Linked DNA regions of Homo sapiens: region 1 is linked to region 2. The links come from fine-mapping of genetic effects on gene expression. A gene starts in region 2. The other region holds a variant in brackets. All regions are shown on one strand. Distances are from middle to middle.

Region 1 (4,382 bases), 90 kb before region 2:
CAGCCTGGGCAACAAGAGTGAAACTCTGTCTCCAAAAAACAAAGCAAAACAAAAGATAGTAAAAAGGCAACCACAGGATGGGAGAAAATACTTACAAATCATAGATCTGATAAGGGATTAATATTCAGAATTTATTACATAAAGAACTCTCACAACTCACCAACAAAAACCAACTCAATTCAAAAATGGGCAGAGGATTTGAATAGACATTTCTCCAAAAAAGATATACAAATGGTCACCAAGCATATGAAAAGATGTTCAACATCATTAATCACTAGGTAAATGCAAATCAAAAACCACTATGAGATACTACTTCACACCCATTAAGATGGCTATTACTGAAAAAAAAGAAAAAGAAAACAAAGGAAAATAAGTGATGGAGGTAGTGTGGAGAAACTGGAACCCTGTGCACTGCTACTAGGAATGTAAAATGATGCAACTGCTATGGAAAACAGTTTGGCAGTTCCTCAAAAAACTAAACCTAGAATTACCATAAGGCACATTCTACTCCTAGGTACAGACCCAAAAGAATTGAAAACAGGACTCAAACAGATACTTGTACACCAATGTTCATCGCAGCATTATTCACAGTAACCAAAAGATGAAAACCTATTTGTCCATCCATTGATAAATAGGTAAACAAAATGTATATACAGACAATGGAACATGATTAAGCCATAAAAAGAAATAAAATTCTGATATATGCTACAACATGGATGAACCTTGAAAACACCATGCTAAGTGAAATAAGCCAGACACAAAAGGACAAATCTTGTATGATTTCACTCATGTGAAGTACCTAGAACAGGAAACTCATACAGACAGAAAGTAGAACAGAGTCTGGGAGAGGGAGAAATAGGAGTTATTTTTGTTTGGGATGATGAAAAAAGTTTTGGAAATAGTAGTGATGGTGATAGAACACTGAATGTTTCCACTGAATTGTACACTTAAAGACTGTTAGAATGATAACTTTTAGGTTATATATTTTTTCAATCATTAAAAAAATTGAGGGCCAGGCATGGTGGCTCACACCTGTAATCCCAGCACTTTGGGAGGCCAAGGTGGACGGATCACAATGTAAGGAGTTCAAGACCAGCCTGGCCAACATGGTGAAACCCCGTCTCCACTAAAAATACAAAAATTAGCTGGGCATGGTGGCAGGCGCCTGTAGTCCCAGCTACTCAGGAGGCTGAGGCAGGACAATCGCTTGATCCTGGGAGGCGGAGGTTGCAGTGAGCCAAGATCACGCCATTGCACTCCAGCCTGGGCAACAAGAGTGAAACTCTATCTCAAAAAACAAAACAAAACAAAACAAACAAAAAATTGAATTCACCAATAACATACACTCCTGTAACCCAGTGATTCTACTTTCTAGGTATTTCCCTGGAGAAATTCTTGTACACTCACAATAAGACCTACATTGCAGCACTGTGTATAAGGGCATTAGAGTTGAAACCCAACTGTTTATCAACAGAGGAATGGGTAAGTAAGCAATGAAACACAATACAGACATTAAAATCACTCAACCAGGCCAGGCACGGTGGCTCACACCTGTAATCCCAGCACTTTGGGAGGCCAAGGTGGGTGGATCACTTGAGGTCAGGAGTTCAAGACCAGCCTGGCCAACATGGTGAAACCCCTTCCCTACTAAAAATATAAAAATTAACTGGGCGTGGTGGTGGGCACCTATAGTCCCAGCTACTCAGGAGGCTGAGGCAGCAGAATCGCTTGAACCCAGGAGGCCGAGGTTGCAGTGAGCCTAGATTGCACTACTGTATTCCAGCCTGGGTGACAGAGCGAGACTCTGTCTCAAAAAAAAAAAAAAAAAAAAAAAAAAAAAAATCACTCAACCAGAGTTCCATGTCATGCCATTGAATGGCAAACACACTGATCAGTGAAAAAAACAAGTTGATACTCCTGATGTATAATTTTAAAACACAAAACACTATCTATTGTCTGTAATATATATATCAGTAATAAAAATACAAAACAAACATAGTGAGGGTTGTGGTTGTTTCTGGCGGGAGGGAGAGTGACTAAATATGAAGGTGGGCTTTAGCTATTAGCACAAGCATTTTATTCCTTTTTTTAAACCAGAGATCTGAAACAAATCAGGCAAAACATTAACATCTGTTTAACTTGGCAGTGAATTTATGGGTCTCTATGACATTTTTTTTTGTATAATTGTATGTTTTATAACTTAAAAAAATCTTTGATATCTCTAGAATCTTACTTTATAAGAATTGAGTTGGTCTACTACCCTAGACCTTCCTTTAGAGGCAAATTGCTCTCCCAGGGTTCTGCATCCCAGCCCTGTCCGCATTTTTTTCTCACTTTTTCTACTGTACCTTGATCTCCCTCTCCTCCTTTCCGCTAACATCCACCCAACAGCCTTCAACATGTTCTAGTCTGTTGCATCTTAAAACACACACCAATAAATAGGAATTTATTTAATTCCATATAGCTAACCAGTTGTTCCCTAGCCCCACAGAGACTGCACTTTAAACAACATGCACGCTGTTCCTATTGAGGAGGCATCAGGCCAGCAACACATCACAGTGCCTGCCCTGGAGTAGGGGCTTTACCTGATCACCTAGGCAAGTGGCATAAGAA[C/T]TGAAAACTAGAAGCAACCAGACAGGAATGGCCTCAACTTTCTGCCACCAAAACCTCCAGACTCACTAGCAAATACACCATTCCAGTTACGACCCTAGACCTTCCTTTTGAGGCAAATTGCTCTCCCAGGGTTCTGCATCCCATCCCTGTCCACATTCTTTTCACATTCTCTCTACTGTACCTTGACTTCCCTCTCCTCCTCTCCACTAACATTCACCCAAGTCTTCAACATGTTCTAGTCTGTTCCATCTTAAAACACACACCAACCACAGAATGCCCCCTCTCTCAACCCCCCAGCACCTCTCACTAATGCTTACCTTTTATCTCCCTTTCATATCCAAACTTCTTCAAAGATTTCCAGTTTCTTTTTCTTTTTTTCTTTTCTTTTTTTTCTTTTTTGAGACAGTCTCACTCTGTCACCCAGGCTGGAGTGCAATGGTGCGATATCAGCTCACTGCGACCTCCGCCTCCCGGGTTCAAGCAATTCTCCTGCCTCAGCCTCCCGAGTAGCTGGGATTACAGGCGCCCACCACCACACCCGGCTAATTTTGTATTTTTAGTAGACATGGGGTTTCACCATATTGGCCAGGCTGTTCTTGAACTCCTGACCTCAAGTGATTTGCCTGCCTTGGCCTCCCAAAGTGCTGGGATTATAGGCATGAGCCACCGCGCCCAGCAGAGTTCCACTTTTTCACCACTTTTCTCAACACCTCATCTTCACAACTCTGCTCAAATTGCCCCAGCAAAGATCACCAATGATCTCTATCATTAAGTCCAACCAAAGGACTGGTCAGGGGTGCCTGGAAGTAGAGAATTTATACTTTCCATCTGGCTCTCTTCTCTACTGTCTGAATTTTTTATTTCCATGTACATGTTTTGCCTTTATTAAAATAATAATGACTATGATTGCCTATAAGCAGTTTTTAATCCTCCTCTTCCTTGAAGGTTCAGGCACAGCCAACACCATGGACCAATTTCCCCTTCAAATGTGTCCTTCCTCGTTTCCATGTCACCATAGCCTCCTCTCTGGCCCTTTCTTCTGGCAAAACCCTCTTCTTCCCATGCTCTTAGTGATGGCTTCCTTGAAGTTCCATCCCACTTTTCTCATTAGATACTGTTTTCTTTGGGGGATTTCATCCATACCTTGGCTTCAGTTATGGCTGATACAAGGACAACTCCCCACCTCTGGGTTCAATTCAGATCTCTCTGCTGAACTCCAGACCCAGAGATCCACAGCCCCCTTGGAAATCTCTACTTGAATGCCTAGCAGCCACTAAAATCATATTCAAAGCCAAACTCACCATTTTCCTTCACCATACCTACTCCTCTTCTCATTATACCTATCTCAGGAACACGAATCACCCTCTATCTAACTGCACAAGCCAAAAGCCTGGAAATCATTCTTGACTCCTTCTTACTCTGTTGATTTTACCCCCTAAATCTGTCTCTAAATATTCACATTTCTTCATCCCCAGGCCACTTTTATTTCACACCTGGATTACCACAGCTGCCTAAGTGAGCTCTCAATCTTTGCTATACTCCAGCTAGAGTGGGCCTTCAATTCCAAACCTGAATATGTCATCATTCTGCTTCAAATACCTCATTGCCTCCCCTAACCATTGTCTCTTGGATTGTCTAAATTCCTCATCATAGCTACAGAGCCCTTCATGACCTGTCCCCTACCAACCACCCAGACTCATCTCCTACACTCCTCTTCCCATGATTATCCCCTCAGTCCCTGTGAGTATCTGTCAGTTCCTGGGATAGGC
Region 2 (4,382 bases):
ACTGACGGGCCCTGGGGGGCCTGGGGAACAGGGGCCAGAGCTGAGGCCAGAGCTGGGGCCAGAGGGGGCAGCCAGACCGGAGGCAGCAGAAGCCGATATACTCCCCTCACTGCCCGCAATGGAATAGGATTCTAATGGGAGGAAAAAGAGAGGAGGTGATAGACCTTGCCCCAGCTCCAGACTCAGGGTCCCCAGGGAACTCCCAGGGTCTTCTCTTCATGATGCTCAGCCTCTCTCTCCAAGGGCTCACTCTCTTGCCATCCTCATTTGAGTTGGCCAGGATAGAAAATTTCACCAGGGCACCCCTGGGAGAAAGCACAGTAAGGTAAACGCCTGGCTCTCCAGGCCTGGAACCCCCAGTTACATGTGGAGGTTCCCCATATCCTGAGCATAGCATAGATATGGGGGTGGGGGCAGCCATCTGGGCAGACATTGGAAGCTGGGGGTGGCCATCTGCTCTCCTACAACCCTCCCTCTTTCAATGGGTACAGACCATTCTCTGGGAAGAGGGGAGGATGAGCTGGGTCCATCTGCCACTCCCAGTCCCCTCCTCCACCAATTGCAGTAATCACTATAAAAAGAAAAGACTTCTGCAGCCCACCTCCCCAACACATGCGTAGACCCAATAGAGGAGGCCAGTGAGGAGGGTCCATCAGGGTTATCGTTGGCCTGTGCTCAGCGACAGAGAGCTGTGATTCCTTATAAAGCCCCTTGTAGAACCACCTCATTCTCATTCCTCCATTCTCCTGTCCCTCTTCAGAAGTAGATTCTTAGCAAAAGGTTTGAGGAAAATAATCGGTTCTAGGCCTAAGGGGATTGTGGGTGGGTTTTTCTCAAACCCATTTGACAAAGGGAAAGAGATGAGTTCCCTGCCCCTTCCCCTATTTCCTTAACTTGAACTAACAGAAATTTGGAGGCAGAAGGGACCTTAGGGATCACTTAAGAAACCACTTTCCTGGAAAACACATACAGTCTCCAACCCTAAATCCCAAGGGCCAGGGCAAACAGATGCCCTGAACCCCCAGCCCGCCCCCCACTCAACACTGGACCCTCTCGACCTGGCACTCACCACGTCCCCCCCGGGCGAAGCAGCAGCCGCATTTTGCCAGCACTTTTCGGATCACACGGGGACAGGCACAGCGACCCCCTTTGTGCCCCCCCCGCATGGCGCCCGGGCCCCCCCGCGCCCCCCACCCGGGCCGGCCATGCAGGGGGAATCACGGGGGGCGGGGCGGGGACGGCGCCGGGCGCACACCCCCCCTCCCTCCTACCCCGGTCCAGGCTGTGGGAGGGGGGGAGGGAGGGGACCGGGAGGAGGTGTCCAGGGGTAGGCGGAAGTCTAGTCTTGAGGAGGGCTGGGGGCTCTAGAGAGAGAGAGGCGCGGGGCCCGGCCGCCGGGCTGGGCGGGGAGGGTTTCCGGAACCCTGTCGGTGCGGGGGCCTAGGGTCCAGATGTCCAGTGGAAGGGGGAGGGATGGTAGGGGAGGCTGGGCCGGGATGCGGCAGCCGCTCCAGCTGTCTCCGGCCTCTGGTTAGGGGTGGCTCTAGGCCCGGGCCGGGGAGGAGGCGAGGGCCGACCCCCGAGCCACTGGCGCTGTGCGGGTCCCAGCGGAGCGGAGAGCTGAATAACAGGCCTGGCCGCGGGGCCGCCACGAGGCGGGGCCTCTGCGGCCCAGCTCCGCCCTCTCCATCGCGTTCCCCCTCCTGCCTGCGCCGGGTTCCCGCCCCGATCGCCCCTCCCCCAGACACCACCACGTTCCCACTCCACGTCCCCAGCGCTTTTTCCCCTCCCCAGCCCGTGCTCCCCTGCCCCGGGGTCCCCCTCCCTCTCGCATCCCGGGCTCTGCGGAGCGCTGGGGTCGGGGTTCAGCCTGTCTGCAGGGTCTGCCCAGGTCTCCCCTTGGCCTCTGCGATGAAGGAGGACTCAGTGGATGGGGCCTTGGCCTGTGCGAAGATGTTCTGGGTTTGGGGCTGTCCCCGGCCGAGTGGACAGAGGCCCCCTGGTACGGGGTGCGTGTATGGGGAGTCTTTTGTGGGTGAACACAACCCAGATGCCGCCCTCTCTCAGGACCCTTCTTTCCTCCAGGCCCCGGGACTCCAGCTAAGACTAATCGCCAATTAAGGCGAAGTCCTGGAGCCCGGGCTGGCGAGGGGCCAGGGGTGGGGCGCGGGGACACTCTGCCTGCGAGGGCTCGGGATCGACTGGGATGGGGGACACACATTGGACTCGAAGGCAAGAAGAGTGGAGGTCTCTGCGATTAAATGGGTCTCATGCAAATTAGATGCGAACTTTATGCTAATAAGAATAGAATATTTTTGAATTCGCCACTTGGCGCAGGATAGCAAACTGTGCCCCACCCCACCCCCAGCTTCTTACCGGGCTGCAGAGCCCCGGCGAGGACCTCATGTTCGCGATCCCTTCTGTGATCTCCCTCCGTACGTTCAGACTCTGGCTCGGTACCCACCAACCCTAGAGGGCTTCTCCTTGGGGGCTGCGGGGACAGAACCACTGTAAGGAACCTGCCCTCCTAGGCAGCCCTGACCTCCCCCTTCCCCTTCTCCTACCTGTCAAAACCCACATTGTTATAAAAGGCTCGCCCAGAACGGGGCTATGGCCCTCGTAATAGAATTCATGTATTCCTGCGACTGCCCCGCAGAACTCGTTTTCGGATAAGTTGAGTTGTGGGTGCAGCCCTCCTGAAGGCCCCGAAAGACCCCCGACCCCACCGCGAGCCCCCATTCTTACCCCCTCCTGCCCAGGGAGGGCGCATGCGCGCAGCATGCCCCCCATGACCCCCAGTATCCGGTCAGTGCGGCCAGGGGCGGGGCGGTCCGGGGGCTTCATACTGAACCCCCACCCTGCTCCAAGTTTCAGGGTCGAGGGGGCACTGAAGCTGGGGGGCTTTGAGGCCTGCGCGCGTCCGGGGAGTTGCTGCTGCGGAATCCGCCCCCTGCCCGGCTCCGCCCCCACTCCCACCCCAGCCAAACTTCGCAGAGTGGCTAGGGTTGTTTTCTCTACAACCATAGTTGAACAACAAAAAAACACCCTCTTAATACTAATTCCAACATCGAAGTGACCCAGGGTTTCTCAGTGTTACTACAGAGCCCGCTGGTGCATCCCGTTTCCCCAGGTCCTCAGGAGGCAGAGGGACTGGGAGTGCACGCAGGGATCACCCCATCATCCCCTCTCCCCTTTCCAGCAGGTCCCTCTCCCCACCCCACCCCCACCCAGTCCCTGGAAAAGAACGGGTGTGGCATAAAGAGTTGCATATTTTACTTTATTTTTATTAAATTAAAAGCTACAGTCTGGCAGCGATTCCAGAACAGGGTAAGGAGGTTCCTCACAGGGGTCAGAGAAGAGCGGAGAAAGACAGACTGACGGAGACTGAGACACAGGAGAGAAAGGACAAGGTTAAGGGAGAACTGTATCTGATGAACACACACAGCCGGCTCCATGGCGGGTGACGGGGAGCTCACATCAGCCCAATTTCTCCTCCCCGGCACCCGAAGTTCAGCGGTGGAGCAGTATGTGGGGGCGGTTAGGAATCAAGAGACCCTCCCTTCCCCACCCTAGGTCCTTTCTCGGCTTGGTCGTGGAGCACAGCACATACCAGAAAAAGCCAAGGGCAATGGAGGGGCAGGGAAACCGGGAGTATATGTACACGGGGAGGGGAGAACAGAGCCTTGGAGGTCGGCCTCTGCCAGAAGGGAGTGGCTCACACTGCATTGAAACACTTGGCCAGTGGGGGATGGGGGAAGGGATTGCCCCCTCCCTCTCGGAACTCCCTTCCCAGTCAGACAGGTCCCCTACAGGTGTGGTGTGGGGGGCAGGGGGCAGAGAGGAGAAAGAGGCTTCTGCTGGGTCCTAGTAGAGGCAGACAGCAGGGGCCTTGGCAAAGGCGATGTCCTTCAGTCATCTGTGATACCCTTCGCTCTCAGCTCCTCTTGCACCCGGGTCAGGTAGGTGGGGTCTGGGTACCCAAACCTGGGAGCAAAGAGAAATGAGGGTGAGGGTTGTTAGCTGTTTGAACTTGCTATTATCCCCATGCTCACCCTCATTCTAGGTGGCTCAGACACCTCCCCACCTCCCCTAAGGGAGGACACCTCCAAATCCAAGATAATTTAGCCCAGTTCTGCTTATTTTTGTAGGCTAAGCTGGGCACACCAGGACCAGGTTGAATGTAGGAGAAACTGAGATGGCTGAACAGTTTGGAAGTGGTTCTCTCCAGTTAGGAGGCTCCGTGAGCGAGGGGTTGGTGGGTCCCTCAGTGGAAATGGAACAAAGGGGAGGAGCCAAGGGAAAGGAAATGAAGAGGGGTCGCACAGCTGGGGTCCCCCTGTGCAGCTGGTCTTGTGGTGGATGTCGTTCCAGGTGATGACATT

Evidence for each region. PIP is the estimated chance that this variant, and not a neighbour inherited with it, causes the effect.
Region 1: its variant is the best candidate, but not a certain one, in a credible set for the expression of ARHGEF25 in unexposed skin (GTEx, PIP 0.50).

What each region holds. Positions count from the first base shown.
Region 1 is chr12:57,698,723-57,703,104 of GRCh38, reverse strand. All of the region lies in intron 5 of OS9 (OS9 endoplasmic reticulum lectin), which reads right to left. Among named protein-coding and RNA genes, the nearest start is that of OS9, 6.8 kb to the right of the region's middle. The variant C/T (reference allele first, on the strand shown) is at 2,614.
Region 2 is chr12:57,608,679-57,613,060 of GRCh38, reverse strand. It overlaps ARHGEF25 (Rho guanine nucleotide exchange factor 25), which reads right to left and starts at 1,626. Exons shown (of 15, transcript NM_182947.4): 1 at 1,070-1,626; 2 at 1-131. The coding sequence starts at 1,166. It overlaps DTX3 (deltex E3 ubiquitin ligase 3), which reads right to left. Exons shown (of 7, transcript NM_178502.4): 6 at 4,324-4,382; 7 at 3,259-3,984. The coding sequence ends at 3,909. RefSeq lists a silencer at 1,214-1,733.